Regions from separate parts of the Homo sapiens genome. Here regions 1 and 2 are each linked to region 3. Evidence: fine-mapped expression QTL. A gene starts in region 3. Each other region holds a variant in brackets. All regions are shown on one strand. Distances are between the middles of the regions.

Evidence for each region. PIP is the estimated chance that this variant, and not a neighbour inherited with it, causes the effect.
Region 1: its variant is fine-mapped to the expression of EFNA1 in blood mononuclear cells (TOPMed, PIP 0.99).
Region 2: its variant is fine-mapped to the expression of EFNA1 in whole blood (TOPMed, PIP 0.99).

What each region holds. Positions count from the first base shown.
Region 1 is chr1:155,145,865-155,156,703 of GRCh38, forward strand. It overlaps the pseudogene HMGN2P18. Among named protein-coding and RNA genes, the nearest start is that of DPM3, 11 kb to the left of the region's middle. The variant C/T (reference allele first, on the strand shown) is at 4,858.
Region 2 is chr1:155,071,246-155,079,245 of GRCh38, forward strand. The region is part of intron 1 of EFNA4-EFNA3 (EFNA4-EFNA3 readthrough); the gene reads left to right. It overlaps EFNA3 (ephrin A3), which reads left to right and starts at 7,592. Exons shown (of 5, transcript NM_004952.5): 1 at 7,592-7,824. The coding sequence starts at 7,697. RefSeq lists enhancers at 168-247, 323-835 and silencers at 7,511-7,670, 7,701-7,850. The variant G/A (reference allele first, on the strand shown) is at 4,756.
Region 3 is chr1:155,124,339-155,132,338 of GRCh38, forward strand. It overlaps EFNA1 (ephrin A1), which reads left to right and starts at 3,538. Exons shown (of 5, transcript NM_004428.3): 1 at 3,538-3,731; 2 at 7,001-7,296. The coding sequence starts at 3,640. RefSeq lists silencers at 355-649, 3,429-3,488 and enhancers at 553-1,392, 1,393-2,232.

The DNA.
Region 1 (10,839 bases), 23 kb after region 3:
GACCCAGAGCAATAAAAACAATTTTTTCTTTTTCTTTTTCTTTTTTTGAGACGGAGTCTCACTCTGTCGCCAGGCTGGAGTGCAGTGGCATGATCTCAGCTCACTGCAACCTCCGACTCCCTGGTTCAAGCGATTCTCCTGCCTCAGCCTCCTGAGTAGCTGAGATTACAGGCACACGCCACCATGCCCAGCTGATTTTTGTATTTTTAATAGAGACAGGGTTTCACCATGTTGGCCAGGATGGTCTCGATCTCCTGACCTTGTGATGGCCCACCTTGGCCTCCCAAAGTGCTAGGATTACAGGTGTGAGCCACCGGGCCCCGCCCAAAACAATTTTAATGTAAAAAGTGAAACTCTAAATATGCTGCAAGCAAATGTGGTGCATGTTTCTCTAATGCTCAGCTCAAGTATCATGTCTCCCAGGCAGCCTTCCTGCGCCTTGATTCTGTCCTGCAGGGTTGGCCCCCATCTCCCTCCTCCTGCTCTCACTGACTTTCTTTTATTGACTTTCATGGCAATAACCATGTTGAGCTGTAGGGGTTTTCTTTCTCTGCCTGTCCTGCCCCCAGGACCATTGTATTCCCAAGATCAAGCACAGTGTGGGAAATGTAGCCGGGTTTCTATAAATGTATGATGAGTGAGCGAGAGAGAGAAGGACAGTTTGGCATTAGATGGTCTCCAGAAAAACTGAGCTAGCTTTCCTGGTCCCAGGAAATACAACTACTCCAGAGACCCCAGTCTGCCAGACACAGGGTGTTTGGCCTTGGATAGCACTGGACAAGAGACAGAATATTCTTACAGTCCAACTCCTTTCTCTTCAGTCTTTCTGCAGATCATTACCCTTCCACTACCACCTCAGGATGAAGTACATGTGATTACAATAGGATATGAGAGGCAGAGCAGCTTGGGAGTTAAAAATTGGGGCTTTTGGGGAACATGTCATCAGGACCTCCTGAGGCTGTGTCATGGTTAAAAAAATAATAATAATTTTTTTTTTAATTGGGGCTTTTGCTGGGCATGGTGGCTCATACCTGTAATCCCAGCATCTTGGGAGGACAAGGCAAGAGAATCGTGTCAGGCCAGGAGTTTGAGACCAGACTGGGCAACATAGTGAGACCTTGTCTCTATAAAAAAAAATATTAAAAATGGACGGGCATGGTGGCTTACACCTATAATCCCAGCACTTTGGGGGGCTGAGGTGGGCAGATCACCAGGTCAGGAGTTCGAGACCAGCTTGGCCAACATGGTGAAACCCCATCTCTACTAAAAATGCAAAATTTAGCTGGGTGTGGTGGTGCACGCCTGTAATCCCAGCTACTGAGGAGGCTGAGGCAGGAGAATTGCTTGAACCCAGGAGGCAGAGGTTGCAGTGAGCCAAGATCATGCTACTGCACTCCAGTCTGGGCGATAGAGCAAGACTCTGTCTCAAAAAAAATTTTTTTAATATATATTTTATTTAAATATGTATCTATAAAATATATACATATTTAAATATGTATCTATTAAATAGATACATATTTAAATATGTATCTATTAAATAGATACATATTTATGTATCTATTAAATAGATACATATATTATATATATGTAAATTTTAGCTGGCATGGTAGAGCATGCCTATAGTGCTAGCTACTCCAGCGCCTGAGGCAGGAGGATTGCTTGAGCCCAGTCAAACAATTTGGAAGACAAATTCCAAATCTAAGAGCCTCTGTACTGAAGATAAAAGGATATGCAAAGTTAAACAGAACACAGAGAAGGAAGGGACTATCTGGAGGGAAGGCTTCATAGAGGCCCAGAAGCCTGAGTTGATACTGGAAAGATGAGTAAGAGTTGTTTAGGTGAGGGGAGGGGGCATGTAAGGCCAAGGGAACAGCTTGAATGAGAGGCCTGAAAGTTCATGGTGGGCAATCTTTTGTGGCTGTGTCTGAGACAAAGAATGTTTCATGGGGGCAGTGGCAAGGATGAGGTTGGAAAAGCTGGCCAGGGTCAAGTGATTAAAGACCCCTTAAAAGTATGTGTGGGCTGGGCGAGGTGGCTCATGCCTGTAACCCCAGCACTTTGGTTGGTCGAGGCGGGCAGATCACTTGAGTTCAGGAGTTCGAGACCAGCCTGGCCAACATGGTGAAACCCTGTCTCTACTAAAAATACAAAAATTAGCCGGGCACAGTGGCATGCACCTGTAATCCTAGCCACTTGGGAGACTGAGGCAGGAGAATTGCTTGAACCCAGGAGGTGGAGGTTGCAGTCAGCCAAGGTTGCACCATTGCATTCCAGCCTGGGTGACAGAGCAAGACTCTGTCTCAAAAAAATAAAATAAAAGTATTTCTGTTGGACGCTTCACCTGTAAAGATACATATAGGACTGAAAATAAAGGGAAAAGATATTCCATGCCAATGGAAACCAAAACAGAGCAGGAGTAGCTATACTTATATTAGACAAAATAAATTTCAAGATAAAACTGTAAGAAGAGACAAAGAAGCTCATTATGTAATGATAAAGGGGTCAATTCAGCAAGAGGTTATGATCATTATAAATATATATGCAGCCAACAGTGGAGCATCCATATATATAAAGCAAATATTATTAGAGCTAAAGAATAGAAGAAGAAGAAGATACAAGAATGACCCCCAGACCGACCCGCGTGCCCAGCGCCTACATCCCGTCGCTGTTGCCACCACCATGCCCAAGGGAAAGGCTGAAGGGGATCCTAAAGGAGATAAAGCCAAGGTGAAGGACGAACCACAAAGGAGATCCGCGAGGTTGTCTGCTAAACCTTCTTCTCCAAAGCCAGAGCCCAAGCCTAAAAAGGCCCCTGCAAAGAAGGGAGAGAAGGTACTCAAAGAGAAGAAGGGAAAAGCTGATGCTGGAAAGGAGGGGAATAACCCTGCAGAAAATGGAGATGCCAAAACAGACCAGGAACAGAAAGCTGAAGGTGCTGGAGATGCCAGAGGAAGTGTGTGCATTTTTGATAACTGTGTACTTCTGGTGAGTGTACAGTTTGAAATACTATTTTGTATCAAGTTTTATAAAAATGCAGATTTTTTAAATTTATTTTTTATTTTTTATTTTTATTTTTTGAGACGGAGTCTCGCTCTGTCTCCTAGGCTGGAGTGCAGTGGCGTGATCTCGGCTCACTGCGAGCTCCGCCTCCCAAGTTCACGCCATTCTCCTGCCTCAGCCTCCCGAGTAACTGGGACTACAGGCGCCTGCCAGCACGCCCAGCTAATTTTTTGTATTTTTAGTAGAGACGAGGTTTCACCGTGTTAGCCAGGATGGTCTCAATCTCCTGACCTCATGATCCGCCCACCTCGGCCTCCCAGAGTGCTGGGATTACAGGCGTGAGCCACCGCGCCCGGCCCAGATTTTTTTTTTTTTTTTAAGCTATGTTGTTAGCACACAGAACACTTCATTGTTGCTTTTAGGAGAAGGAGCAAATGTCACTAATAGAATGTCTCTGAAGCTGGATTGATATGGGGAAATCGTCTTTTCCTTCTAGTTCCGAGAGACTTCCTCTTGGCTCCCAGGAGGAGGGATTCCCTGACTTTGACACACATGGCCACCTTGGCACAAAAGCCTTGTGAAAGGGAAAAGCAAATTTGTTTTTATGTCCTCTTCTCCCTTTCCATCTTTCAGCATAGACTTAACTCCCTTAAGCCCAGACATCTATTGGAACCTGACCTCCAATCATTGGTTACTAGTGTGTCAGGCAATCTGGACTTTCCAGTGATGTCACTGAGATGGCACCTGTCAAAAGAGCAATGGTGCGGGGTGTGGTGGCTCACGCCTGTAATCCCAGCACTGTGGGAGGCCGAGGCAGGCGGATCACCTGAGGTCGAGAGTTTGAGACCAGCCTGGCTAATATGGTGAAACCCCCTTCTCTACTAAAAATACAAAAAATTAGCCGTGTGTGGTGGCGGATGCCTGTAATCCCAGCTACTTGGGAGGCTGAGGCAAGAGAATCACTTGAACCTGGGAGGCGAAGGTTGCAGTGAGCCGAGATCACACGACCGTACTCCAGCCTGGGCACGACAGAGCGAGACTGCCTCTCAAAAAAAAAAAAAAAAAAAAAAAAAAAAAAAAAAAAGTAGTGGTTCTGTTTCTAGATTGTAGATCTTCAGATAAATTCTGCCATTTTAATTTCACTTCCTGAAAGTCAGGGTTGACTTGTGAAAAGTTGTTAAACAACATGCTAAATGTGAAATGTCAACTCTCACTCTAAACTTTCCCTGTTCAGATCATCAGATGAAGACTTCATTGGGTTTTATAGTGGCTTTCTGATTTCTGGTAGTCCATTGAAGAAGGGAGTTTGAAAGTTGTTGTATACTGTTAATGATTGTCTGCCCATGTCCTGCCTGAAATACCATGATTGTTTATGCAAAGTATCTTTAATAAAACTGGATACAGTTAGGCTTGGGGGAAAAAAAAAGAATAAACAGCTGGAGGCTTCAACACCCAACTTTCAGCATTGGACAGAACTCCCAGATAGAAAATCAACAAAGAAACATCGGATTTAATCTGCACTACAGAACAAATTGACCTAACAGATACTTATAGAACATTTCATCCAATGGCTACAGAACACACATTCTTCTCCTCAGCATAGGGATCATTCTCAAGGATAGACCATATGTTACTCCCAAAACAAGTCTTAAAACATTCAATTCAAAAAAATTGAAATAATATCAAACATCTCTGACCACAGTGGAATAAAACTAGAAATCAATAACAAAAGGAATTTTGGAAACTATTCAAATACATGGAAATTAAACAATATGCTCCTGAATGACCAGTGGGTCAATGAAGAAATTAAGAAGGAAATTGAAAAATTTCTTGAAACAAATGATAATAGAAACACAA[C/T]GTACTAACACACCTATGGAATACAGTGAAAGCAGTACTAAGAGGGAAATTTATAGCTATAAGTGCCTACATCAAAAAAGAGGAAAAACAGCCTTGGCAACATGGCAAAACTTTGCCTCTACAAAAATACAAAAATTAGCCAGACGGGGTGGTGTGTGCCTATAGTCCCAGCTACTTGGGAGGCTGAGGTGGGAGGATCACTTGAGCCTGGGTGGTCTAGGCTGCTGTTGGCCATGATTCTCGACACTGCACTCCAGCCTGGGCAACAGAGCAAGACCCTCCTCTCAAAAAAAAAAAAAAAGAGGAAGAAGAAAAACAACCAAATAACCTAATGATGCATGTTAAAGAACTTGAAGAGGCAGAGCAAACTGAACCCAAAATTAGGAGAAGAAAATAAATAATAAGGTTCAGATCAGAAATAAATGAATTTGGGCCGGGCGCATTGGCTCACGCCTGTAATCCTAGCACTTTGGGAGGCCAAGCGGGGCAGATTGCCTGAGCTCAGGAGTTTGGGACCAGCCTGGGCAACACAGTGAAGCCCTGTCTCTACTAAAATACAAAAAAGTAGCTGGCTGTGGCAGCATGCACCTGCAGTCCCAGCTACTCAGGCTGAGGCAGGAGAATTGCTTGAACCCGGGAGGCGGAGATTGCAGTGAGCTGAGATCACACAACTTCACTCCAGCCCAGGCAACAGAGTAAGACTCTGTCCCCTCTCTCCCCCACCCCCCCAAAAAAAAGGAAAGAAAGAAAGAAAGAAATGAATAAATGAATTTGAAATGAAGAAAACCCCATCTCTACTAAAAATACAAAAAATAGCTGGTAGTAGTGGCATGCACCTGTAATCCCAGCTACTCCAGAGGCTGAGGCAAGAGAATCACTTGAACCTGGGAGGCAGGGTTTGCAGTGATCCAAGATCGTGCCACTGCACCCCATCCTGGGCAACAGAGTGAGACTCCATCTCAAAAAGAAATAATAAAAATAAAAATATAAAATAAAAAAGATCAGGCCAGGCGCAGTGGCTCACACCTGTAATCCCAGCACTTTGGGAGGTCCAGGCGGGCAGATCACATGAGGTCAGGAGTTCAAGACCAGCCTGGCCAAGATGACGAAGCCCCATCTCTACAAAAAATACAAAAAAATAGCCGGGCATGGTGGCGGGTGCCTGTAATCCCAGCTACTCGGGAGGTTGAGTCAGGAAAATCACTTGAACCTGGGAGGTGGAGCTTGCAGTGAGCCAAGATCGCGCCACTGCGCTCCAACCTGGGCAACAGAGTGAGACTCCATCTCAAAAAATAAATAAATAAATGAAATAAAAAAGATCAACGAACAAAAAGTTGTTTTTTTAAAAAGATAAACAAAATTGGCAAACGTTTAGCCAGACTAAGAAAAGAAAAAGAAAAGACCCAAATAAATAAAATCAGAGATTAAAAAGGAGACAGTGCATCTAATACCGCAGAAATTCAAGGGCTCACTAGTGGCTACTATGAGCAACTATATGCCAATAAATTGCAAAATCCAGAAGAAATGGATAAATTCCTAGATACATCTAACCTACCAGGATTGAACCATGAAGACATCCAAAACCCAAATAGAGCAATAACAAGTCACGAGATCAGAGCTGTAATACAGTCTCCCAGTAGGCTGGGCATGGTGGCTCATGCCTGTAATCGCAGCACTTTAGGAGACCAATGTGGGAGGATTGCTAGAGCCCAGGAGTTGGAGACCAACCTAGACAACATAGAGAGACCCTGTCTTTATTAAAAAAAAAAAAAAAAAAAAAAAAATCCAGGCGCAGGGGCTCACGCCTGTAATCCCAACACTCTGGCAAGCCAAGGTGGTGGATCACTTGAGGTCAGGAGTTCCAGAGCAGCCTGGCCAACATGGCGAAACCCTGTCTCTACTAAAATTACAAAAATTAGCCAGGCGTGGTGGTGCATGCCTGTAATCCCAGCTACTCCGGAGGCTGAGGCAGGAGAATAGCTTGAACCCGAGAGGCAGAGGTTGCAGTGAGTAGAGATCATGCCACTTCTCTCCAGCCTAAGCGACAGAGCAAGAGTCTGTCTCAAACAAAAAAAAAAAAAAGAAAGAAAGAAAGAGGCCAGGCATGATGGGTCACGCCTGTAATCTCAGCACTTTGGGAGGCCAAGGCAGGTGGATCACGTGAGGTCAGGAGTTCGAGACCAGCCTGGCCAACATGCTGAAACCCCATCTCTACTAAAAACACAAAAATTAGGCCTGGCACGGTGGCTCACGCCTGTAATCCCAGCACTTTGGGAGGCCGAGGTGGGCAGATCACCCGAGGTTGGGAGTTTGAGACCAGCCTGACCAACATGGAGAAACCCTGTCTCTACTAAAAATACAAAATTAGCCAGGCATGGTGGTGCATACCTGTAATCCCAGCTACTCGGGAGGCTGAGGCGGGAGAATTGCTTGAACCCAGGAGGCAGAGGTTGCAAGTGAGCAGAGATTGGGCCATTGCACTCCAGCCTGGGGGCAACAAGAGCGAAACTCCATCTCCAAATAAAAGACAAAAAACAAAAAAACCAAGACAGTCTCACTCTGTTGCCCAGGCTGGGATTCCTTCCAAAGTGCTGAGATTATAGGCGTGAGCCACCATGCCCGGCCTAAGACTCTGTCTCAAAAAAGAAAAAAAATTTTAAAGAATAACTAATACCAGTCCTACTCAAACTGTTCCAAAATATAGAGGAGGAGGGAATACTTCCAAATTCATTATACAAGGCTGGTGTTACTGATACCAAAACCAGACAAAGACACATGAAGAAAAGAAAACTACAGACCAATATCTCTCATAAATATTGACGCAAAAATTCTTAGCAAAATACTAGCAAACAAAATTCAATAATTCATTAAAAAGATCATTCATCATGACCAGGTGGGATTTATCCCGGGGATGCAAGGATGGTTCAACTTATGCAAATCAATCAATGTGATGCATCATATCAACAGAATGAAGGACAAAAACCATATAATCATTTCGATTGATGCTAAGAAAATGTTTGATAAAGTTCAACATCACTTCATGATAAAAACCCTCAAAAAATGAATATAGAAGGAACATACGTCAACATATTAAATGCCATATATGACAGACCCATAGCTAGTAAAATACTGACTGCAGAGAAACTGAAAGCCTTTCCTCTTAGATCTAGAACATGACAAGGATGCCCACTTTGACCGTTGTTATTTAGTATAGTACTGAAAGTTTTAGCTAGAGCAATCAGACAAGAGAAAAAAATAAAGAGGACTGGGCGTGGTGGCTCATGCCTGTAATCCCAGCACTTTGGGAGGCCGAGGCTGGCGGATCACCTGAGGTCAGGAGTTCGAGACCAGCCTGACCAAACATGGAGAAACCCCGTCTCTACTAAAAATAAAAAACTAGCTGGGCGTGGTGGCACATGCCTGTAATCCCAGCCACTTGGGAAGCTGAGGCAGGAGAATCGCTTGAACCCAGGAGGCAGAGGTTGCAGTGAGCTGAGATCACGCCGTTGCACTCCAGCCTGGGTAACAAGAGCGAAACTCTGTCTCAAAAAAAAAAAAAAGAAAAAAGAAATAAAGAGCATCCAAACTGGAAAGGAAGAAGTCAAATTATCCTTGTTTGCAGGTGATATGATCTTATATTTGGAAAAACCTAGACTTCACGAAAAAAACATTAGAACTGATAAACAAATTCAGTAAAGTTGCAGGATACAAAGTCAACATACAAAAATCAGTAGCATTTCTCTATGTCAATCGTTAACAATCTGAAAGAGAAATCAAGAAAGTAATCCCATTTACAATAGCCATGAATAAAGTTAAATACCTCAGAATTAACTTAGCCAAAGAAGTGAAAGATCTCTACAATGAAAACTACAAAACACTGATGAGGCCGGGAGCTGTAACTCATGCCTGTAATGCCAGCACTCTGGGAGGCCAAAGTGGGAGGATTGCTTGAGCTTAGGAGTTTGAGACTAGCCTGGGCAACATAGTGAGATCCCATCTCTACAAAAATAAATAAGAAAGAAAGGCTGGGCACGGTGGCTCATGCCTATAATCCCAGCACTTTGGGAGGCCGAGGCAGGTGGATCACCTGAGGCCAGGAGTTCAAGACCAGCCGGGCAAATATGCTGAGATCCTGTCTCTAATAAAAATGCAAAAATGAGCCGGGGGTGGTGGTGTGCACCTGTAGTCCCAGCTACTCAGGAGGCTGAGGCAGGAGAATCACTTGAACCTAGGAGGCAGAGGTTGCAGTGAGAGGAGATCACGCCACTGTACTCCAGCCTGGGCAACAGTGTGAGACTCCATCTCAAAAATAAATAAATAAATAAATAAATAAGAAAGAAAAAGAATAAAACACTGATGAAAGAAATCGAAGAAGACACAAAAATATAGAAAGATATTCCATGTTCCTGGATTGGAAGTATCAATATTGTTAAAATGTCTATACTACCCAAAGCAATCTACAGATTCAAAGAAATCCCTATCAAACTACCAATGACATTCTTCACGAAAATAGACAAAACAATCCTAAAAGTTGTATGGAATCACAAAAGATCCAGGATAGCCAAAGCTATCTTGAGCAAAAAGAACAAAACTGGAGGAATCACATTACCTGACTTCAAATTACACTACAGAGCTATAGTATGCAAAACAGCATGGAACTGGCATAAAAACGAACACATAGACCAATGGCAGAATAGAGAACCCAGAAACAAATTTATACACCTATGGTAAACTCATTTTTGACAAAGGTGCCAAGAACATACACTGGGGAAAAAAACATTCTCTTTAATAAATGGTGCTGGGATAACTAGATATTCATATGCAGAAGAATGAAACAAGGGAGGCAGATTGCACAGGAAAAAAAAATGGATGAAACTTGACCCCTGTCTCTCGCCATATACAAAAATCTAATCAAAATGGATTAAAGTCTTAAATCTAAGACCTCAAACTATGAAACTGCTACAAGAAAACATTGAGGAAACTCCAGGACATTGGTCTGGGCAAAAATTTCTTGAGTAATATACCATAAGAACAGGCAACTAAAGCAAAAATGGACAAATGAGATCACATCAAGTTAAAAAGCATAACAAAGGAAATAACAACAAAGTGAAGAGACAACCCACAGAATGGAAGAAAATATTTGCAATCTGATAAGGGATTAATAACCAGAATATATAAGGAGCTTAAACAACTCTTTAGGAAAAAAATCTAATAATCTGATTTTAAAATGGGCATAAGATTTGAGTAGACATTTCTCAAAAGAAAACATACAAATGGCAAACAGACATATGGAAAGGTGCTCAACGTCATTGATCATCAGAGAACTGCACATCAAAACTACAATGGGATATCATCTTGCCCCAGTTAAAATGGCTTATATCCAAAAGACAAGTAATAATAAATGCTGGCAAGGATGTGGAGAAAAGGGAACCCTCCTACACTGTTGGTGGGAATGTAAATTAGTGCAAGCAGAGTTTACAGATGCCTCAAAAAAACTAAATATAGAGCTACCATGTGATTCAGCAATCCCACTGCTGGGTGTATACCAAAAGAGAAAGGAAATCAGTATATCAAAGAGATATCTGCACTCCCATGTTTGTTGCAGCACTGTTCACAATAGTCAAGATTTGGAAGCACGTTAAGTGTCCATCAGCAGATGAATGGATAAGGAAAATGTGGCACATATACACAATGGAGTACTATTCAGCCATAAAAAAGGAATTAAATTCTGTCATTTGCAACAATATGGATGGAACTGGAGGTCATTATGTTAAGTGAAATAAGCCAGGAACAGAAAGACAAACATCACATGTTCTCACTTATTTATGGGTCCTAAAAATCAAAACAGACCAGGGGTGGTGTCTCATGCCCGTAATCCCAGCACTTTGGGAGGCTGAGGTGGGTGGATCACCTGAGGTCAGGAGTTCAAGACCAGCCTGGCCAACGTGGTGAAACCCCATCTCTACTAAAAATGTAAACATT
Region 2 (8,000 bases), 53 kb before region 3:
GCCACAGGCGCTCAGGCCCAGCCGGCCTTCCCTATACAACTTTCCTCATAGCATGCGCGGGCGGCTGATTCAGTCCCGGGGCGCGTCCCCATGGAAAGCCAGGGCTGAGTCCACTCATGGGGCCGAGACGGGCTGCAGGCGCTGGGAGGTCTTCCAGGCACCGGGCCTTACCCACGAGAAGTCGAGGCGTGTTCCAGGGCGCAGTTCCAGGAGGCTGGGCAGGCCTGCAAGTTTTGGGGCGTCACCGATCTCCCCTAAACTCAGTAGCGCTAGGCGGCTTAGGGTGGGGCCCTCAATTTGCTGGGCCTGCCCTAGTCTCTCCCGAATAGATGCGAAAACTCCACTCATCTTTACCTCGCCCTGTCTCCCTGTTTGAGAGCCTGAGAGTCTCTGCGACGGGCAATCCTGCTCCACACTTTCTGGGGTTTCAAATCTCCCTTTTCTTCTCCAGATTCAACCCTGAAGTTTTGTTCTTTTTCTGTCACCTCCCCCCTTTTTCTTCTTCCCTTTTATTAGTTCCTTCTTTCCTTTTTCATTCACTCAGCACATTGTGAGCTTCCAGCGCGCCTTTCTTTCAGTAGGCCAGACGCTAGCTGGGGTCGTCGGGGGATCCCCAGCGGTGACGCCATTGAAAAGGGTGCGCTCTGGCTTCCAAATAGCCAATAGAATCCCGGGGCCTGGGGCATGAGGTCATCAGCGGTGATGCCCATTGGTTCAGGTCTGGAAGTGAGGAAGGGGTCCCCATAGCAACCGACGGTGCGTCCGAGTGCAACCTGGAGAGTAATGTTTGCCTGAGCTGCTGTGGCAGCTTGGGTGGGTGCTTGGGATGGGGTGAGGAAGCTGGGGTGGAGCTCAGCTTCCCAGGTCCTGCAGCCCTAGCCCAAGCAAGCTCTTATCTCTCTTGAGATCCTTTTTCGTTCTCAAAGTAATGGTCAGCACCACTTAACGCAGAAAGATTAGGAGTAGGTTGGTTATTGGCAACAGCATTGGGGTGCAGAGCTGCTGCCACCAGGAATGTCAGTACTGAGATCCTGTGTTCATCTGCATATCGTCTGCATCTCATTTGCATTCTCTTCATTTAAGGTCAAATTGGGCAGACATCTCCACATCCCCAGCCCTGTCGCCTGTCTGTTTCTGGAATCTATCCCTGAGTGGCTCTGTAATCTGTCCCTCAGTTCTCCACCTTCATACCCCACCTCTCCCATTCTCCAGTGTCTGTTGGGGACGGATGGGGCAAAGCCAGCAACAGAAGAAAGGATAAGGAGTTTGTTCTCCCGCTGGATGTTTGGTGACAGATGGGGAGTACTAGTCTATACTGCTTGGCCCCGGCTGGGTGGAGGGTCTCCAGGGCCAAATCACCCACATGCCTGGCGGGGTGCTGGAACTAGGGATGCCTGGTTCCAGCAAGGGGCAGGCCTGCCCACCTGTCTGGTGCCAAGGCAGCTTCCTTCCTCCAATTAAACACTAATGAGGTGTCATTAACCCTTACCTTGCCTGCCAACCCTCAGGTTGAACTCAAATTCGTGGTCTCACACTGAGGGAAGGGAAGGAAAGGAGGGCTTCTGGAGAGCTGAGTGGTGGTGAGGGGACCAAGAGAAAAGAAGGCAGGGTCAGAAGCCTGAGTAGCATGCACGGTTTTCTACTGTGGGCTTCTGAAGGATTCTAGAAATGGGAGTCCCACTGTCAGAAGGCATTTATTCTTTTGTTCCTTGATTCAACAATTATTAAGCACCTCACTACTCCTACTAAGTAAATACTAGGCTGCATACTAGATGCTGGGGACACACACTTGCATAAGACAAGATCGCTTCCCTTAAGGGATCTTCAGATTACCCAAGGAGACAGACTGGCCAATGAGTAATTATAATGCAAAGTGAAAATGCTAATATAGAGCTATATACGAAGTGTTATGGGAACACAGGGAAAACGGGTCATCAGAGAAGGCTTTGATTTTGAAGGACAAAGTATATGGCAGAGAGGGGATGTGTAGAACTAATAATGTCTGTGGGTTTGACACAGTGTGGGTCTATGTTTGGATGTGTTTTCAGGACTGCTGGTGTCTGCCCTCCCAGAGCGGCATGTTTTGCATCCGTATGTATGTGTGTGAGTTAGTGTATGTGTGTTGTGTCTGGAATCCCTTCTCCTGAAACACATTGTGGTTTTATTACAGATCAATGTTTGCTGTGAAGCTCTTCAGCAGATTGGCCTGAACCTGCCCAGCCCAGGGGAGGGGAAGTGGAGACTGATGTTGGCTCCTTGGGAAAGGGTGGGCAGGCACCATCTTCACACCTGGGGGCCCAGACCCCTGGCTCCCAAAGTGGCAGCAGGCTGACCAAAGAAGGTGAAGGGTTGGGCCCCTGGCTTTGTAGGGTGTGCCCAGGCTCTAGTCCCCTCTGTCCCTAACTCCTCAGAGGAGACATGGGGGTTACCGCTACCACTCCCCACCAAGATCTCAGGCCCCCTCCCCCAACCTGTTCTTCTTCTGTCTGTGGAGGAGCAGGCCAGCTCAGACCTGTTTGCTGGCTCTCCCACAGGGAGCGGATCCTTTCCAGGGGACACAGAGGGCTGGGGAATGCTGGGACCTACTGGGAGGCCGCCAGATACTCCACCCTGGCCCTCTGAGGCTCTCTCCATCCTGGATTCTCCCCACCCACTCTGGGGTGCCACTCTTCTGGTTTTTGCCCAGACACAATCATTTTTGTCAAGGAAGCCTTCAACCACTAGGCAGAGGGTGGGGGCCAGAACTCTGGCAGGGAAGACTTGTTGGGGGTGGTGGTTATGATGCTACTCAGAGACCTCTGCTCCAATCTCTCTGCCTCCTTGCAGCCACTTCCTTCCTTCCTTTCTTTTTTAAGAGACAGGGTTTCACTCTGTTGCTCAGGCTGAAGGGCAATGGTGTGATCATTGCTCATGGCAGCCTCAAACTTTTGGACTCAAGTCATCCTCCTGCCTCAGCCTCCCAAAGTGCTAGGATTGATTACAAGTGTGAGCCACTGCATGGGCATTGCAGCCACTTTCTTTTATTTATTTATTTATTTATTTTTGAGACAGAGTCTCGCTCTGTTGCTCAGGCTGGAGTGCAGTGGCACGATCTCGGCTCACTGCAAGCTTCGCCTCCCGGGTTCACGCCATTCTCCTGCCTCAGCCTCCCGAGTAGCTGGGACTACAGGCACCCGCCACCATGCCTGGCTAATTTTTTGTATTTTTAGTAGAGACGAGGTTTCACCATGTTAGCCAGGATGGTCTCGATCTCCTGACCTCGTGATCCTCCCGCCTCAGCCTCCCAAAGTGCTGGGATTACAGGTGTGAGCCACCCGGCCATTGCAGTCACTTTCTAGAGAGCTAAACTTTGGTGAAAGTCTGGATTTAGGAAGACTTTTAAGGCTTAAGGAGAGTCTCTGGGGTCTGAGGAGAAGGTCAAGGTCCCTTCTTCCACACTGTCAAGAATAGAGACTTCCTTTTTTGACTGTAACCTCCTCTTCTCATTCCATCTAATCTTTTCCTACCCCTTGCATACTTTCTAAGCCCTAGGTCACATCTCTCCCTATGTTAGCTGTTAGGAAAGCTTGGAAATGAGGGAGAACAAATGGAAAAGAGTCTGGGCTGGTCTAGGTGGGCAGACCTCAGTAGATAACCTCTTAATTATAAGAAACCCTCCATTAATCCAGTGCCTCTGGGATCCTAAACACTGTGTTAAGTGCTTCCCAGGTATTATGGATCTTAATCCTCTTAACTACCAGCTCCCTGAGGTGGGGCATTATTATCCCCATTTTACAGATGAGGAAGCAGTCTCAGAGAAGTTGAGTGACTAGCATAGTTAGCGAGTGGCAGAACTGGAATTCGAATCCAAGCCCAGGCTGTTCACTGCTAAGCCAATACTGCTGCCTCTCAGCTTTTCTTGAAATACATTCAGAGGACTCACACACACCTCTAGTGTAACACCCCAGAGCTCCAGGCTTCTTGGCTTGCTGGACTCATTAGAGGGATCAGGACATGACCAGAATCAGAGGTGATTACACCCCAATGCCACCCACCAAGCCCTGCATCCTAATTTCCTGTGAACTGGACCACATACCAGTGCTTATGTTCCCTGCTGTCAGGCTTGTATGTAGTTCCATGTCAACTCACAGACGTTAGAGCATCCTCAGAGCCATGCCGACACACACACACTTGCTGGGACCCAGGTTTCCTGGTTAGGACGGCACCAACAGCCTGCCTGGGCTGGGGCCACACACACGGGCCCTGTGCAAGGTGCAGAACCTGTGAATATTTCATGCCTGGAGCTGGCAGCTGCCTCTCTTGCTCACACGTGTGCCTGATCTTCCCTCTCACAGGCTCCTTGTTTATTTGTTTAATGAATTATTTATCCATGGCCCCGCTTCCCTCCTGACCTCCCCCTTCCCCAGGCCCTAGCCTCCATGATTTATTGAACACAGCTCAGCTCTGTGGTTGCCACCTACTGTCCCAGACGCTGCCTTCGGCCACACAGCCTGAGAGCTCCCTCTGTCCCACACCTGCTCAGCTCCCTGCTTCCTTGGCCCCTGAGGGATGGAGGAGAGTGAGGCACCATGTCAGAGTCCTCCCAGGAGCTGAGCTCAGTGTCCCGGGAGAGATCTTGGCAGCCAGCAGTGTGCTAGCAAGCCCAAGAGTCAGAGCCTGCAGGTAAGGAGGAGGAGGCCTGAAGCCCTGAAAACAGGACCAGCCCCATGGAGGGAGCTCCAACCTCCACAGAGGCCCTCATCCAACAGAGAGGTC[G/A]TTCAGGGCCCAGGCCTTAGACACCAGTTTTTCACACTATAGGTTGTGATCTATAGTGGGGATGGTAAAGTCAAGAAGTCAATTTTATGGGCTTCAACCAGCTTTTTATTTTATTGTTTTTAATTTTAAAACTAGAACAGAGGAAAATATCATCGTGCATCCTCTGTAGTAAGGGTAAGTATTGTTTCATGAAACTTATTATTTCAGTTAAATGTGTGTGTGTATGAGTGTGTGTGTATGAGTGTGTGTGTGTGTGTGTGTGTGTGACTGAACTGCAGTGCAAAATATAATCCTACTGTGGTGGATCACAGTCAGAAACAATTTGAGTTACATTTATACCCAAACGTCTAGACCCCATCAATAAGGCCTGGGTCCTTCCATGACTCACATGCCACAGAGAGAAGCCCAGGCCTTTAGATTAGGCCCTGGGCATGTGGACAGTGGCTCAGATCTTATACACAGGGACTCAGTCCCTAGAGAAGCCCAGACCTTATGAATAGAGGCCTATAGACAGACATAGGCATTATAGCTAGAAGCACATATCCTGTAGACAGAATTGCCATATATGGTCATATAGTTTGTGCATGGCACAAAGGAGCCACCCAAGGGGAAGGGGACATCGGCCCAAGCTCCCTCACTAAGACAGGGAGCCACTAGAGCCACCTCTCACTGAAGGAGGCAGCACCTTTGTTTTTGCACAAAGGCACCACTTGCCAAGAGATGCACCCTAGGGACTGAGCCTGCAAAGAAGGGTCCTTTTTCTAATTCACACAAAGGCCCAAATCAGCTAGCAGCCCTATGGATAGAGGCCCAGGTAGACAAAGCACTAGATCCCACGGACACAGGCCTAGCTAGGCCCTATAAAGAGTATCTCAACTTCAAAACCAGAGGCTTCGACTCCATAGAGAGAGCTGCTTAAATCCTGTAGAGAGGGCTCCGGATTCTAAGAGAAGGGCTCAGTTATTATTGGAGGGTGGGTGTGGGGGTGCCAGATTCTAAAGAGTACCCAGGCCCTATAGAAAAAGGCCCAAATTCTTAAGCAGAACCTAGATTCGATAAACAGGGATATATCTTTTCTAAAATGGAATTTAAAGTCCTAGACCAAACCAGCAAGTTCCTGTTCACTATCAATATGAGCAGCGTCTCTGCCAACTGTGGGCCCCTACAGAGAGAAGCTGCCCTTGTGGAGCAGGGAATATGATTTGAGTGGAGGGGGCTGGGATTTGTGGCACCTGGAGTAAGCAGGTTAGCATCATTTGGGTGAAACAAATCTCTCTGGGGATGAGGAGCCTGCAGGGAGGGAGAGCTGTTTGCAGAGTCCCCCACTCCCATCCCAAGGGGCCTAATTTATTTGCTGGCTCCTGAGAAGGAAGAAGAGATCTCCTGGGGTGGAGAGGAGCCCAGAGAAAACAGAGACTACTCTCACCTGGCAGCAGTCAGACACTGAACCTATTCTGGATAGCACCGCCCCTGCCCCCAGCCTAGCACCTGAGGCTGACTTGTGGTCAAGACTCTGTCCTGCCACAGATAAGCAGATAGGGAGGTGCCTGCATGTTCCCTCTCCTGAAGGATAGAAGCAAAGTAGCAGCATGCCTGTCTCCCTGGACACAGGTGGTTGGCTTGCGTTCTGAGAACCCAGTCAGGCCTGGTTCCGCCTGGTCTGGGCCTCTCCAAAAGAGAAGAGATAAGGGACAGATAGCCCTAGGTCTGGTTTCTGAACCCTTTTCCTGAACTTCTACTTCCTAGAAAGAGAGAAGAGGAGAGCAAGGAACTGTGTGTGTCAGGATGCATGTGGGTTTGTGTGTGTGTTGTGTGTGGATGGATATAGGTGTGTGCTTGGGTGTCTCTGTGCCTGATCTCTAGCAGTCTGATAGTACCCTTTCCTATGTGTGTCTGGAAGGTGTACCTGTGTGTCCATATGTCTGTGTCAGGCACCTGTGTCTCTATGTTCTCTGCCTTTGGGTGACTGTGCCTTTTTTCCTGAATGTGTGTGTGTGATGTGTGTGCTTGGGTGTCACTGTGAGGACAATGACTGTGGTGAGAGCTGGAACACAAGGTGCTCTGCCCTCTGACTCAGGATCAGCGTCTCTGAGAGTAGGAGTGAGAATCCCTGGGGACAACCCTGGCTGCCCCGGGAGGGGCCCTGCCTAAGTGCCAGTGAGGAATCCTTTGTAGGTGTCCAGGGAACCCTGCTTTGCCCCAGCTGACTCTCTCCTTGACCCCCTCCTGCGCCTTGGGTTCTGGACCACTGAAGACTCTTACAGCTCCCAGTATTGACATTCTCAGGGGCTGAGCTCTTTTACTCTGCCTCCAAGATAAACAAGCCTCATGCTCAGCTGGGGGCTTCAGGTCACCAGCTGTCAAAGCCTTGGTGCCAGCTGAGGACTTCTCCACCACCCTTCTGTGCCCACCTGAGTCCTCATGCACACGGGAAAAGGGGGCATGGACGCAGCAGAGGGCCACAGTTTTCAGAAGGGAAGGGGTCCAGCCCTACTTACTAAGAGGTCCTGGATCCCCAACTTCTTCTCAAGTCTTCTCCTTCCCCTCATTCCCAGAGATGATTGGGCTTCCCTGAGATCGAGATCCTTATCTTGGGTTCCCAAATCCTTCTGGGAAATTCAGCCTGGGGAGCAAAAGACCCAGGACCAGTTGTAGCAAACTGAACTCAAGAAGGAGAGACGAGGCACGCGCTGGTCTTTCCCGAGGGGGCAGTACGGTCCCCACCTCCCACGCGTCGCGCGCTCCCGACCGGAGCGGGACGGGGCCTGTCGGGGGCGCGCCAGGGGCGGGGCTTCGGGGGCGCGCCCAGGAGGGCGGAGGGAAGGGCTGGGGGCGTGGCCTAAGGCTGGGGGCCGACGGCGGCGGCAGCAGGGAGCTGGGAAGCGGAGAAGCCGGGAGCGCGGGGCTCAGTCGGGGGGCGGCGGCGGCGGCGGCTCCGGGGATGGCGGCGGCTCCGCTGCTGCTGCTGCTGCTGCTCGTGCCCGTGCCGCTGCTGCCGCTGCTGGCCCAAGGGCCCGGAGGGGCGCTGGGAAACCGGCATGCGGTGTACTGGAACAGCTCCAACCAGCAGTGAGTCGGGGACCCTGGGAGTCCGCGCGTCCCGTCTCAGTGAGAGGGGGAGCCGGTGGGCCCGAGAAGTCCTGGGGGATCCCGGGGTGGGAGTCCTGGGAGACCAGAGCTGGGGGCTGGGAGGGGACGGAGAGGGGGACGCACTCTGTGGGCGTCTAGGAAACTCGGGGGTGTCT
Region 3 (8,000 bases):
CAGGCTGGTCTCAAACTCCTGACCTCAAGTGATTCACCCGCCTCAGCCTCCCAAAGTGCTGGAATTACAGGCGTGAGCCACCGTGCCCGGCCTATTTTCCAACTTCTGAAAAATGTGTGCACATTACTAATAAAGTGGGGAAGGGTATACTTTATGTTTCAAAATGACCTTGAGGGAGTACGACAGAGATTGCTCTCAGCCCAGGTTCTGCTCCTCCCCCTGCTGCCTCACCCCATTGCCCAGAGATGACCCCTGGGGCTGAGCCAGGTTTCACTTGCCCCAGGGCCCTGCAGCTCTGGCCTTCCCCTCCCCAAACTGCAGGGCACCCAGCAAAGGAGTCGCAATCCAGTACCTGCACCTGTTCCCAACTGGAAATGCTGCCTCCAGGCAGCCAGGGCCTACCCCAAGACCTCAGAGGAATTTCCTCTGAGGAAATTCCTGCCCTCCCAGGAATTTCCAGAAAGGACTCATGGAGGAATTTCCTAGACATGCAGACAGGCAGACAGACAGACACCTCAGGCAGCTCTCGTCACTAAGCGCAGATGTTTGCCTGCGGGTGACGTGCTGGGAGCCAACACAAGCACACAATTTTGCGGCGAGAGGCAGCACGAAGCAAGAATGGAGAGCAGACCCACCCGGGCAGGCTGGGGGCTGGCATGAGGAAGGGACTGGGAGGGGGCCCCAGAGTTGGTCAGCAGATCGAGTCTCCAGGAACAGAAGTCCCTACTATTATCTCTGTCTGAATGGCACAGTGCCCTGCAACTCTCCTCTCAGCACAGCAGGCATTGCAGGGGCTCCAGGAAGGGTCAGGGTAGTGTGACTGTGAGTGGTAGGGCCGCAGTCTGGGCTTGAGCACTTAGCAAGTTTGCTGTCCTGGTGGCTTGTCAATATCCCCTACCGGCCTGGGGGCTCCCCAAGGTAGTGATTTTATCTTAAACCCATCCTTACACTCTCGGTGCCCATCGCAACACCCAGCTCATCACAACACTCAGTGTCTAGGGCTGCTCCAGTAGGGTGGATGATCGACCCCCATATGGATAGGGGAGTGGATAGAGAGTGATGGGATCAATGCCCTAAGTGAGATGAGAATACTGGGGACAGCACCAAAGCAGGGAAAGAGGGCTCCGGGTCCTGTCGGTGCGCAGAATTTCCATGCACGCTTCTGCACCCAGCTTGCTCCAGACCTAGACGCAGGCAAGAGCTGACGTGGCCCCGCCAGACTGGGCCCAGCGAGCCCGAACCTGCCTGGCCCAAGCAGCTGCAGCGTGGGACTTCACACGTCCCCGCCCAGTCCCAGTGGTCAGAGAAACCAGGGAATCCGGCCCAAAGCTGTCTCCTCCAGGAGGCAACCCGGGCCACCTGCTCTAAAGAGCTACCAGCATCCCTCCCCTCTTCAACCCCCCTGCTGGCTCCTTTTCAGAACAGTTATGTCCAGCAGAAGTTAAGTTCCTTCACTGAACAGTGAGTGATTTCACTCACTCCACAGATATTTACTGACCATCTACTGTATGTGCTAGATGCTGTGCCAGGTGCTGGCAGTAAGATAATGAACAAAACAAAAACCCATGTCCTCCTGGAGCTTTGACTCTATGGAATGCCCGAACTGGGAGGCAGTACTCTCGCCGGGGCCACGTGGGAGGTCGACACCCAGGTGTCCTCCTAGGTGAGCAAAAGGCGCGTGAGGTGCCGCCCTGGGAGCAGTCGGCGGGTGGACTTCGTCCTGGGCGAGAGGAGCGGGCCGCACCTCGGACAAACGCTTGGCTGGGCACGTCGCCTGGGGCAGGTGCCCGAGGGAGAGGGGGGTGGCGCTGGCCGTGCGCAAAACCCGGCCCTGACCCGGCCACGGGGTTAGAGGCCGTTGGTACTCTATGTTTATTGTAAACGCAGCGAATACGGCCTCCAGCGGCCTCAGCGCACGTGGTGGTGCAGTGGGGAGCCGGCTGGGCCCTCCCCAGCTCCAGGCTCCTCCCCGGCGGGGTCAGCGCCAGACTTGCTGCGGCGTCCGGGCCCCGCGTAATTACAGGGGCTGTAGCCAGGCCTGGCCGTAAAATAGGAGGATGAAACGGCCTGGGAACTGGAGAAGCTGGGCCGGAGCTGGCCAGGGGCCCCGGGTCCGTGGCTTCCCGCGATGCGCAGCCGCAGGGAAGGGCCGGCTGAGGATGCGCACACACACTCACAACACCAACCTGGCGCGCACACAGCCACACAACCACACACGTAAACCACCAAACGCACGCAGACACACAGCATTCGGCTCTCCCACTCCAGGCTCACTCGTGAGCCTAATCAAACACCTGCCCGCCCTCTCCACCCCAGGAGCTGACACCCGCCCGCCAAGCCCTCTCCAGACGGCAGCAGATCCAGGCGGGGAGAAGAGCCCCGAGAGGCAAATTCCAGTGGGTTTGTTTACACAGCGCGGGGGAGGGGGCCTGAGCCGGGTACTGGGGCCCGACTGACTGGGAGCCCCAGCTCAGACTGGGCCAGCTCCAGCTGTGCAGCCTGAGGACTGCGCACAAACGCCCCTCCGTTCCACCCCACCCCCGCTGCACGCCGGTACGCGTCTCCCCTCCTCTTCACACGCTGTTCACAAACATTAGCATACGTCTGTCAAAGAGTTTCACACGCTTCCACACACGCGGCTGTGATACTACTCACAAATGCTTTCATGCTAGCGCGCCATCACACGTATTTCATGTGTGGTTACAGTTTGTCACCCTTCATGCCCAGATTCTCACAGTCCATATTCAAGAGCCTGTTCGCACGGTGTACGCGTGTGTTGTTACATATACTCAGGTTATTAGCGCTCTTTGACTTATCTAAAATAAGAACGGCCCCCTCTCGAGCCCAGGGTCCCGCGTGTCGCTCCTGCGGGCAGGCACTGATGTGATGGACAGAGGCGTCCTTAGCCCCGGCCGCACACGTTACACACTCGATCACACAAAGCGTTGCACTTTATTCCCGGCATCTAGGCGATGACACAATCTCCAGAACAAAGACAACATTGACAAACCCAACAAAAACAAACAGCCGCGTGTGTGTGGGGAGGGGCAGTCAAGCGCAGAGTCCGGGAAGGGGATGGGGGAGGAGGAGAGTGTGGGAACGCGGGCGCCCGAGCCTGGGCATGCGAGGCTCAGAAAGGTGCGGGGCATGTCAACAACCTCGCACCCTGCAAGGTCCGCGCGCGGAGCAGCAAAGCCGTGTCCCGCACCCCCGCGTTCGCAGACTCGCACTTGCGAGTTCTTCCCTTCTCCCGCACGCGACTGCGCCCAGGGACGCAAGCCCACCACCGGGACAGGCTCACAAAGCTCCACGCAGACCCACAAGTGAGCGAACACACATCTCTGAGCAGATCTGCGGGGGCAGAGGAGCGCGCTTCGCTCTTTCCTGCACCCCCAGCCTCCTCGCCTCCCCACCCCGCCCCTCCTCCACCTCCCCAGCCCCCAAGCCCCCAGGCAGCCGCGCGCCGGGCGGGGCGAGGGCGGGGCGGGGTGTCGGGCGGCGCCGGCCCAAAAGGCGGAGTCGCTAGGCGAAGGGGCCAGATCTGTGAGCCCAGCGCTGACTGCGCCGCGGAGAAAGCCAGTGGGAACCCAGACCCATAGGAGACCCGCGTCCCCGCTCGGCCTGGCCAGGCCCCGCGCTATGGAGTTCCTCTGGGCCCCTCTCTTGGGTCTGTGCTGCAGTCTGGCCGCTGCTGATCGCCACACCGTCTTCTGGAACAGTTCAAATCCCAAGTAAGCCTCGAGACTCCCGCTGGCAGCCTGGGCTCCCGGCTGGCACTACCCCACCGGGATAACTGTCCCGGCCAAACCCTGAGCTGAGCCTAGAGTAGATGACCGAGGTAGGAGGGCGGCTGTAGATTTTCCTCCCCTCACTTCTCCGTCATATCTGGGAGCACCCCACCCCGGGGCATGCTTGTGTCTACTTGCATGGGCTTATATCTGCCCTTCCCTTCCTTCTCTCTGGCACCCCTATTACTCTAAAGTGAGGGACTCATGCTGGGCAGTTCCTGCCTTCAGCATAGACTTCGCCCCTGGCAGCCAGGGCCCTTGTTCCAGGCCCCCCACCCCCCCACTGTGAAAGCCTCCACGCCTCTCCTTGTGTGTCCTTTGGGTATCTGACCACACTGACAGATACCTGGTGTGACATCAAGAGTGCACAGAATGCTCAAGGTAACCCTGGAAGGACCTCTCAGGAGAGAGCTGGGCTGTAGGCATTCATTATGCATTCACCCTGTATTTAAAGCAAACCTGGAAAGTCCCTCACTAGGGGTCTTTTGGGGTGGCATGAGTGAGGCACATGCTGTGCATGGGTAGGCTGAGGGAATCACCTGTTTATGGGGCTCTCAAGTAGTAAAAGCGAAGAGCTGGGAGAGGGAGATCATGGGAAAGCTTCAGAATGAACAGAAGAGGTTAAAGGGGTTACAGAAGGTTCTGGGCAGGAAGGAGTTAATTTCTCCTGGGCAGGTTTAGGGCTGTGAGGCAAATGGTACTGGGAGGAAGACTCTGTCGGCCCCTTTGTTCTTGCCCTTGAGTTTTCTGAAGTTATGGGAACAATATTTGAGGGAATACAGGAGAGGGTGGTAGGGAGGAGCAGGGAGAGAAGTGGGCAGCTTGGTATCACGAAAGCCATCTCACCGGCTTAGCCACTCTCGGCCCTAGCAAGCTTGCCCCCCACTCCCCTTGAGAAATATGTTGTGCCAGCTTCCTCTGACCCCGTGTCATCGTCTGGTGAGGCAGTCTGTTGTCTGTGGCTTGTTAGGGTGGGGGAGAGAACAGCCAGCTGCCAACCCCAGAGGGCAATGCCCTCCTGCCCATGGACGCTGGGGAGGCTCAGCCAGCCCTCCGCCACCCGCTCCCTGTGCTTTGCCTCCTTGACCTGATGCATCTCGCCCTAGTATGGGAGAGAGCAAAGTCCCTGTTTATGCCCATGCCAGGTGTTGACTGGAGGAGGAGGAGGGGACAGGAAGCCATGAGTAGGGAGGGGGGGACCCTGGCCTTTTCCGTTCCCAAGCTCCCAGGTTTCCTCTCTTTCAGGAAGGAGCCTCTTCCTTACCCACCTCCCCGCCTTCCCTGACGCCGCTGCCCCCCTTTCCCAGATGGGGAGCAAGAGTCAAATGAAGGCTAAGTACAGCAGACTGTACCCCCAGGAGAGGGGGCTGATGGGTGACCCTCTGGCCACACACACACACACACACACACACACACACACACGCACACCCTATCATACCCAGGACTAAAGAGACGCCAGTCCAGAGTAGAGTCCGTAGGCAGCCAAGCTGGGCCCAGCGTGGGGGCAAATATGAGGCTACAATGAACGGGGTAGGTGAGGCTGGCATGGGTGACTCAGGCCAGTGGGCAGCAGCCCTGGGATCTCCAGGCCTCAGGCGGGGGCAGCATGCTGAGAAGGGCGCCAGCCTCCCTCATGCTGGAGGGCAGGCCCCTCATTCTGACCTGCCAGCTCCCTTTGTTTGGAGGACACTGTTGGGGGTGAGTGGGCGCTGTGCCCTCCTGGGGTCCTGGGGGCTGTGCACATTTGACAAGGTAAGTTTTCACAAGTTCTCATGAGTGCTGGGGCGGGTAGCAGAGGTGGATGAGGAATGAGTCAGTGCCCGTCACGGGAATGAGGGAAAGACGCCAGGCCCAGAGCTGAAATACCTGTTCTGAAATGGCTTCTATGTTTATCTCTCCAGAGAGGAATTTTAAAAGCCTCTCTCTGCTCCTCTCTTTTCCCCAGGGTGGGGGAGGGGCCTGGTAAGCCCAGTTTGGGCGCTGGCACGCTGCTGCAAAGCCTGGCCTCTCAGGGGTCATGCTGATTGGGCAGTGGGTGCCCACCTCCGAGTCCTCTCTGCCTGACTCCTTCCTCGCCCTCCCAGCCGTGGCCAGGGCTTTCAGTTCGAAGCAACTTAGCGCTAATTCTGCTGGGTCTCTAGCTGGCAGTGCCTGGGGGAATTAGAGAAACTGACCAGCTTGCGGGGTCGGGGGAAGCACTTTTCCCCCTACTGGGACCCCACCCAGGCTGGAGCCAGGTGTCTGGAGCTGGTGGGGAGGGGCTGGTGGGCAGTCAGGCTGGAGCCGGTGGGGCCAGGGGGAATGAACTAGGGGAGGGGTGCTGGCTCCACCTTGGGAGGAGGGGAGAGGAGGGGAGAGGGGGAGAGGAGGAGAGAGGGGAGAGAGGGGAGAGGGGAGAGGCTGTCTCAAGCTCAAGCTCAGAGCTCCAGCATTTCATCTAGGGGGAGGTGGAAGTGTGGCTTTTAGAGATAAAAGGACAGGGTTGTTTTGGGGTGCTCTGAGAAGGGGAAAAGGAGACCAGTGTATAACTTTGAGTAGCTAGAACGGGAAGATTTGAGGGGGCTGAATGAATTGATGAGAGTGATTTAACTTAAAGGACTGGGGCATTATCTGTGGGCCCGGGTATACTAGCTTCACTTTTGAGGAAAAGTGAAGCTGGGAAATGTGAGATCTACTCAGTGGGTCCGGGGAAATGTGAGAGGAGTAAGGAAAGTGAAGACACAGATGTGTTGGAGGCTCCAGGCTAGCATGGTAAAGAGAAAGGGTTTCCTGGATTCTGATTACAGAATGGACCTGTGGGGGTCTCAGATTGAGGCCTAACAGCATTTAAAAGGAGCAACTGGTAGAACAGATTTGGGGAAATATTTATGGGTAGAAGAGAATGATAAGTGAGCTACAGAAATAGGTAGAAGCCCATCTAAATATCAGGTAAGTATCAGGGGGGTTATGGAAAATGCTTTGGTACCCGAAAGATACTGAGTGAATGCTATTTGAAGGACCAACAGGAGACAGTGATGGTGCAGGGGAATGTTTAGAGATGGCAGAGAGAAATGTAAGACATCAAGATCAGTACATATTGGGAGTTGAAACTTCGGAAAAATCTCTTGGGGTCCAGTGTGAAATGTGAGAGGTCATGTAAACATTCAGAGGCCCAAGGATCTGGCCTGGCTTCTGAATGACCACCTGCTTCTTCCCCCTGTGTGTGTCCCCAGGTTCCGGAATGAGGACTACACCATACATGTGCAGCTGAATGACTACGTGGACATCATCTGTCCGCACTATGAAGATCACTCTGTGGCAGACGCTGCCATGGAGCAGTACATACTGTACCTGGTGGAGCATGAGGAGTACCAGCTGTGCCAGCCCCAGTCCAAGGACCAAGTCCGCTGGCAGTGCAACCGGCCCAGTGCCAAGCATGGCCCGGAGAAGCTGTCTGAGAAGTTCCAGCGCTTCACACCTTTCACCCTGGGCAAGGAGTTCAAAGAAGGACACAGCTACTACTACATCTGTGAGTGCCTGTGAGGGGACAGTGTCTGTGTTTCTTTTTTGCCATTACATACATGCTTGGGTACATGCTTGGTGTAGAGTCCAGCAGCAGAGGGCCCCTTCCGATCTTGAATTCTATTTTCATTCATCTACATCCCAATGTGAGTGAGCTTCTACTATGTGCTGGGCACTCTGTTTAGCGCTATGAGCACAAAGATAAATAAAACACTACAGAGCCCCTGTCCTCAAGGAAGCTGGGAAGAAACACACATAGGTTAAGAGACCCTTAGAACAGTGTGCTACAGTAGACATGAACACAGGGGCCTTGGGAAAATGACCTGGGCACCTGCCAGGCTATGGGGCTCAGAGAAGGCTCAGTGGGGAAGATGGTCCCAGAGCTCAGGACAAGCAGAGGAGCTGGCCAGGCATGAAGGCACACGTACAAAGGGAGCATGACATCTTCAGGGAACTTCCTGTGGCTCAGCCTGGCTGGAGTTGGAGGGACACAGGAAGTGAGGAGATGTGAGCCTGGAGAGGTGGACAGAACAGACCATGGGGGAACTAAAAGGTGATAAGGAGTTTGGACTTTATCCTGAGGGCTCTCGCCACTGATGGGTTTTATTTTATTTTATTTTATTATTATTATTACTCTTGAGATGGAGTTTCACTCTTGTCGCCCAGGCTGGAGTGCAGTGGTGTGATCTCTGCTCACTGCAACCTCTACCT